Homo sapiens: one gene and its partner. The protein of the gene in region 1 purifies or fractionates together with the protein of each later gene. This does not show direct contact. Each region holds a gene or a part of one and is shown on either strand. Other genes may lie near its edges. The genes, in order: NRCAM and YTHDF2.

Region 1 (3,827 bases):
GCATGCCATAAATCATGCCATTCAAATGCCAAGGACATCAAAAAGTGGCATGAAATTAGCTTTAAAGTTGAAATTTGGAGAAAAGATCACTACATGCTGAATACTCATACTGAATTTTTTGAATGCTCTCAGCCCACTTGAGAAAGATAAATCAAATTCATTGCATATTACCCAGTGGAAGACCTCCTACAGGATTCCCTCAGATTGCCCTAGAAATAGATTTTTTTTTTTTCTGGTTACAGTGGGTTTTGAACCAACACACTATGCACATAATAAAATTTAAACATATATATATATTCAACATATATATATTCAAAATATAGTTTCCAGCCCTTCCTACCATTATTTAATGAGAAGAATTTCAAAAGGATCATTTTTGCCTGACAGTACCTGTCATTTTCATTCTCATGTGAATTAAACCATGTTTTAGTCCAGGGCAATATGGAAGAAATTCGGAGAGCACATAATACAAGTAAGATTCATCATTCCTGTGTTCGAACTGAATATGCCATTAGGACAGTATGTGAGTACAGGAGCATTAGTGGTTATAATTTGTTCCCTTTACCACTGGCTTTTTTTTTTTTTTATCTTCACTAGCTTCTTAGTCACTTGATGGAAACCCTCCATCAGACTGTTAAAAATTACCTTTTTCTAATTTGAAATTCCAATCTTGTAGGCCAGTAAAATAGGTCAATTAAGTTGACACCACATCTTTTTTATTAGCTCAGCTAAGCAATTATAATTGGGTGGTGAAGGTTTATGCTGTCATCTTGGAAGATTCAATGGTAGGGAGAAATGCCCAATGTGGAACTATAATTTACAATGCCAGTACATCCCTAAACATTCAGCATAAGAATATTTCTATTTTCAGATATGAGGCAAATTTGCTCTTGTTCTAGATTAAAATAATAATGCCATTTTTTGGCAGTAAAAAAAGCATATTTATTTAACTTATCCTCATAGCAAAATCATTTAGCACAAGTGTATTACAGACATAGGTACTTTAATTCAACATTTTAGAAAAATACCATGAATGTATGCCATCAATGCTGGCTTATCCTGGACTTGGACTACAACACATATGCTCCACAACATCAATTTCTTGCTTTGCACAAAGTATGTAATCAATTAATACTTGTTGAAAACCATATACCTCCATATTAATAAATGTTAAACCAATAAATTAGAAATGCTGTGAATGACTTGTTCAGAATATATAGATATTAATTTACAGCTTTAAAAGATAACAGTGGCTGGGCGTGGTGACTCACGCTTGTAATCTCAGCACTTTGGGAGGCCAAGGTGGATGTATCACCTGAGGTCAGGGGTTGAAGACCAGCTTGGCCAACCTGGTAAAACCCTGTCTCTACTAAAAATACAAAAATTAGCTGGGCATGGTGGCAGGTGCCTGTAATCCCAGGTAATCAGGTGGCTGAGGCAGGACAATCACTTGAACCAGGGAGGCAGAGGTTGCAGTGAGCCGAGACTGCAGCATTGCACTCCAGCCCAAGTGACAGGGCGAGACTCCGTCTCCAAAAAAAAAAAAACAAAGAAAGAAAAAAAAAGTAACAGTGATTGCACTTCAAACCTATTAGGATGGCTATTATCAAGAAAACAGAAAATAACAAGTGTTGGAGAAAATGTGGACAAACTGGAACCCCTGCGCATTGTTGGCAGAAATGTAAAATGGTACAGCTACTATGGAAAAGAGTATAACGATGTCTCAAAAAAAAATAGAACTACCATATGATCTAGCAGTCTCATTTCTGGGTATATACCCCAGAGAATTGAAAGCAGTGACTCAGATATTTGTACATCCATGTTCATGGCAGCATCATTTGCAATAGCCAAAAGATGAAAGTAACCCAAGTATATATGACATATGAATGGATAAACAAAATGTGGCATATACATACAATGAAATATTATTCAGCATTACAAAGGAAGGAAATTCTGACACATGGATCAACCTTGAAGGCACTATGGTAAGCAAAATAAACCAGTTACAGAAAGACAAATAAATACTGTATGATTCCACTCATATGAGGTACTTAGGGTCATCAGATTCATAGACTGGAAGTAGGATGTTTGTTGCCAGGGGCTGGGGGCTGAGGGGTTATGAACTATTGTTTAATGTGTACAGAGTTACAATTTGGGAAGGCAAAAAATGTTCTGGAGAGGTATAGTGGTGATGGCTGCACACAATGTGAATGTACTTAATGCCACTGAAGTATACACTTAGAAATAGTTTAATGGCATATCTTATGTCATATATATTTTACAATAAAAAACTTAGCAAAAACATTTTTTAAATAAACATATTGCATTTGCTGCCCCATTTAAAGACAACCTGATAATGAAGGATTTACAGTTGCTGACGCTGAAGGCTGAGCCATTCCCCTATTTCCTTCCTCAGGTAGCCTTCAATTTTAAGAGAAAAAATAAAAATTTGTCAATTCATTTTGGTACATCTTCCTATTCTTAGAAACTTCAGTCAAACTCATAGAAGCAGAGAGTAGAATGGTGATTGCTAGTGGGTAGGGGAATTGGGGAGATGAGATGTTCTCACCACACATACACAAATTAACTGTGTGAGGTGATAGATGTGTTTATTAGTTTGATTGTGGTAATCATTTCACAATGTATACATATATCAAAATATCATGTTGTACATATTAAATGTATACAACTTTTACTTGTCAATTATATCTCATTAATGCTGTGGGGGGGGGAAGAAACTTCAGCCTTTGATCCCAATAGAGGCTGTTTTAAACAGAAGGAGCTTTTCATTTGCCAAGGCAGTAAAATGTTTAAGTAAAATAAGTCACTGGATTTTTGCCCTTAGCATCCAGTTCTCTCCTCTGTCCTCACCTGCCAGGAAGGTTCCTGGAAGGGATGCTTCAGGTAGGGAAGCATAAAATTTTAAGGGAAAAGCATATCTAAATGTATTTAGTAATTTTCAAATCACTTCCTCTTCATCAATCATTGCAACAGCTGAAGACTGAAGTAAAGCAGTCTTTTGATTCAAATGCACAAAACTTCCTAAAGAATATGTTAGAAGCTCTACATTCCAGTTAAATTTGCTATGGGTTACCGAGCTTCTCAGATGGTAGGTACTCTTTGAAAATGAGGATGAGATTCCAATAGCTGCTGATCTATGGTGAGAATATAAGGAAAAAGCCTCAGTGCCTCAGTGGTTACCCTTTGGGGTGAGTAATGACTGGAAGGGACCACAAGAGGGCTTTCTCAGATGTGCATTACACTGTTCCTTGATCTGAGTGCTAGTTAAGTCAATGTGTTCAGTTTGTGCAAGTTCATCGGCTATGCATTTGTGATATGTGAAAAAAACTCTGTGTGATGAAGTATGTAGCTAGATGATAAAATTAGAATTAATCTTCCCAAGGACAGATATTCTGTTTGGTCACCACTGTATCCCCACTGCCTGGAACACAGTAAATATTTATTAAAGAATGAAGGAATGAATGAATGAAATCTTTTTAACGGAAAAGCTTCCTGTAGAGTTCCATTCAACAGCTCCTATGTACATACACAATATAATATCTGTAGAGTCTATTTATATTCAATCTGTTACACAGGGAAAATTACACCTGCATGAAAGCATTATTTGAAATGATTCTTGAAATTTTCTACAGCCCAGGTGTATACATTCTCAGGACCCCCTCACACTTCTGAAGCACTTACACCTAGCGATTATTGCCATCATTGTTGTATTGGCCTCACAGGAAGTACTATTTCCAAAGATGCTTTGCTTTCTATTCACTGTTACCGTAGCATTAACAAAAATGATGTGGTGTAAGGGCAATGGC
Region 2 (3,827 bases), on another chromosome or scaffold:
AAAAAAAAAATTAGCCGGGCGTGGTGGTGGGCGCCTGTAATCCCAGCCATTTGGGAGGCTGAGGCAGAGAACTGCTTAAATCCAGGAGGCAGGGGATGCAGTGAGCTGAGATCGCGCCACTGTACTCCAGCCTGGGTGACAGAGCAAAACTCCGTCTCAAAAAAATAAAAATAAAAATAAATAAAAATAAAAAATTGGGCCGGGCACAGTGGCTCATGCCTGTAATCCCAGCACTTTGGGAGGCCGAGGTGGGCGGATCACCTGAGGTCGGGAGTTCGAGACCAGCCTGACCAACATGGAGAAACCCCCGTCTCTTACTAAAAATACAAAATTAGCTGGGCGTGGTGGCACATGCCTGTAATCCCAGCTACTAGGAAGGCTGAGGCAGGAAAATCGCTTGAACCTGGGAGATGGAGGTTGCAGTGAGCCGAGATCACACCACTGCACTCCAGCCTTGGCAACAAGAGAGAAACCCCGTCTCAAAAAAAAATAAAATAAATAAATTTAAAAAATAATAATAATAATAAAGATATGAGCTGGCATGAGTTAAAGTATATATAATAGGAAAAAAAAAAACAAAAGTTGGTTCTTTGAAAAAATTAAGATTACTTTGTACCCCATAAATATATACAATTATAAATTGTCGGCCAGGCTCAGTGGCTCACGCCCATAATCCCAAAAAAAAAAAAAATTGGCTGGGCACAGTGGCTTACGCCTGTGATCCCAGCACTTTGGGAGGCTGAGGTGGGCGGATCACCAGGTCAGGAGATCGAGACCATCCTGGCTAACATGGTGAAACCCCATCTCTGCTAAAAATACAAAAAATTAGTTGGGCATGGTGGCACACACCTGTAGTCCCAGCTATTCAGGAGGCTAAGGCAGGAGAATCGCTTGAACCTGGGTGGTGGAGGTTGCACTGAGCTGAGATCGCACCACTGCACTCCAGCCTGAGCAACAGAGGGAGATTCCATCTCAATAAAAAATAAAAATTAAAAATAAATAAAAAACTAGCCAGCCCTGGTGTCAGGCACCTATAATCCCAGCTACTCAGGAGGCTGAGGCAGGAGAATTGTTTGAACCCAGGGGGCAGAGGTTGCAGCGAGCCAAGGTCACGCCACTTCACTCCAGCCTGGGCAAAAGAGCAAAACTCTGTCTCAAATAAAAACATTAAAGATATTAACTATGAATAAATTAGGAAACTACAAGTCCAGACAGATCTGGTCTGTGGCTTAAATAACTAGAAATAATGTCGACATCTCTATCCACCCATCCACCTTAGGCCCTCCTCACTTTAAATCTATGATTACAAAATAGAAAACTCGGCTGGGTGCAGTGGCTCATGCCTGTAATGCCAGCACTTTGGGAGGCCGAGGCAGGTGGATCACTTGAGGTCAGTAGCTCAAGACAGGGCTGGCCAACATTGTGAAACCCCATCTCTACTAAAAATACAAAAATTAGCCAAGCGTGGTGGCACATGCCTGTAGTCCCAGCTATTCAGGAGGCTGAGGCAGGAGAATCAATCACTTGAACCCGGGTGAGCCAAGATCGCGCCACTGCACTCCAGCCTAGCCAACAGAGCTAGATTCTGTCTCAAAAATAAAAATTAAAAATAAAATAAAATAAAATAGAAAATTCAGTCTCTGGAGGAAATATACAAAAAGCCATAAGGTGGCAATGTTAAAGTCTGCACATATGCAATCTCTTCATATAATATTCAAAAACAGTAAATCTGCCTATTTAGCTTCCCTCTATTTAAGCTTAATAACCTTTCTACTTACTACTGCACTGTTCTATCCCTCCCTCTCCCTTCACTTTCAAGTGGGCCATAAAACACAACTGAGGCATATTCATATTCACCTGGATATAATTTTATTAACATTAAAATCTGGTAAATGTTTATCTCTCCCACAAAATTAAATCTATATAGCTCTCAACTAGTTTTTCCTATGCCCCCATGAACCTTGAAAGAAACCCAAAGTTCAGCACCCCAGCTGACAATATAAAATGCTTAGACGGGAGTCATTCTTTGAGACGGAGTCTCATTCTAAAATTCTTTGAGACAGAGTCTCGCTCTGTTGCCCAGACTGGAGTGCCGTGGCACAATCTCCACTCACTGCAAGCTCCACCTCCCGGGTTCATGCCATTCTCCTGCCTCAGCCTCCCGAGTAGCTGGGACTACAGGTGCCCGCCACCATGCCCGGCTAATTTTTTGTATTTTTAGTAGAGACGGGGTTTCACCGTGTTAGCCAGGATGGTCTCGATCTCCTGACCTCGTGATCCGCCCGCCTCAGCCTCCCAAAGTGCTGGGATTACAAGCGTGAGCCACCACGCCCGGCTAGGAAAATGTGTTTTTAAAAGTGATGTGATGACACAAAAATTACTTCCATTGCTTGATATGGTTTAATAGAATCAACCTTTATAGTCTCCAATGCCGTGAATAAGTTAAATAAGTCTAATGACTTGACTTTAGACTTCAAGTCATATATATATGAAACATCAAGTCATATATAATTAAGATGCTAACTTCCCCCAGATAAAGAGACAAAGTATTTTTCATCAGTTCTCCAATTTAAAGCAAGGCTATAATATTTTATTAAAAATATCTATTTTGGCCATGGTACCTCCTGCCTACAAGCCCAGCACTTTGGGAGGCTGGGACCAGCAGTTTGAGACCAGCCTGGGCAACATACTGAGAACCTGACTCTACTAGAATTTGAGACAGAGTTTCGCTCTTGTTGCCTGGAATGCAATGGCGCAATCTCGGCTCACCGCAACCTCCACTTCCCGGGTTCAAGCGATTCTTCTGCCTCAGCCTCCTGAGTAGCTGGGATTACATGCGTGCGCCACCATGCCCAGCTAATTTTGTATTTTTAGTAGAGACGGGGTTTCTCCATGTTGGTCAGGATGGTCTCGAACTCCCAACCTCAGGTGATCCACCTGCCTTGGCCTCCGTTATGTGCTGGGATTACAGGCATGGGCCACCGCACCAGCCAGAAATTTTTAAACATTAGGCCAGGCATGGTGGCTCACACCTGGAATCCTAACAATTTGAGAGGCCAAAGGAGGAGGATCACTTAAGCCCAGGAATTCAAGAACAGCCTGGGCAACACAGTGAAACCTTATCTCTCCAAAAAGTTTTTTTAATTAGCCAGGCATAGTGGCGAACACCTGTGTGGTCCCAGCTACTTAGAAGGCTGCAAGAAAAAGTATGCTTAAGCCCAGGAGGTCAAAGCTGCAATGAGTTGTGATCAGGCCACTACACTCCAGCCTGGGTGACAAAGTGAGGCCTTCTCTCAAAAAAAAAAAAAAAAAAAAATACACACACACACACACACACACACTCATGCACGATATAATGACATTTCAGTCAATGACAGATCAGTAAGATTATAATGGAGCTGACAAATTCCTATCACCTAGCGATGTCGAAGCCACTGTAAGGATGTAGCACAAAACATTACTCACTTGTTTGTGGTAATGCGGTGTAAACAAACCTACCGCACTGCAAGTCGTATAAAACTATAGCACGTAAAATTATGTATAATAAATAATACTTAATAACAAATTCGGCCAGGCGCAGTGGTTCACACCTGTAATTCCAGCACTTTGGGAGGCAGAGGCAGGCGGATCACCTGAGATCAGGAGTTTGAGACCAGCATGGCCAACATGGTGAAACCCTGTCTCTACCATAAATACAAAATCAGCTGGGTGTAGTGGCACGCGGCTGTAGTCCCAGCTACTTGGGAGGCTGAGGGAGGAGAATCGTTTGAACCTGGGAGGTGGAGGCTGCAGTAAGCAGCCAAAATCACACCACTGTACTCCAGCCC

The links.
Region 2: the proteins of NRCAM (region 1) and YTHDF2 fractionate together in Homo sapiens (co-fractionation; one large-scale study listed by BioGRID). This does not show direct contact.

Annotation. Positions count from the first base shown.
Region 1 is NC_000007.14:108,449,686-108,453,512, forward strand, and holds part of NRCAM (neuronal cell adhesion molecule isoform A precursor), read right to left. Parts: intron 1-3,827. UniProt on the Homo sapiens protein: Cell adhesion protein that is required for normal responses to cell-cell contacts in brain and in the peripheral nervous system. Plays a role in neurite outgrowth in response to contactin binding.
Region 2 is NC_000001.11:28,760,621-28,764,447, reverse strand, and holds part of YTHDF2 (YTH domain-containing family protein 2), read right to left. Parts: intron 1-3,827. UniProt on the Homo sapiens protein: Specifically recognizes and binds N6-methyladenosine (m6A)-containing RNAs, and regulates their stability. M6A is a modification present at internal sites of mRNAs and some non-coding RNAs and plays a role in mRNA stability and processing.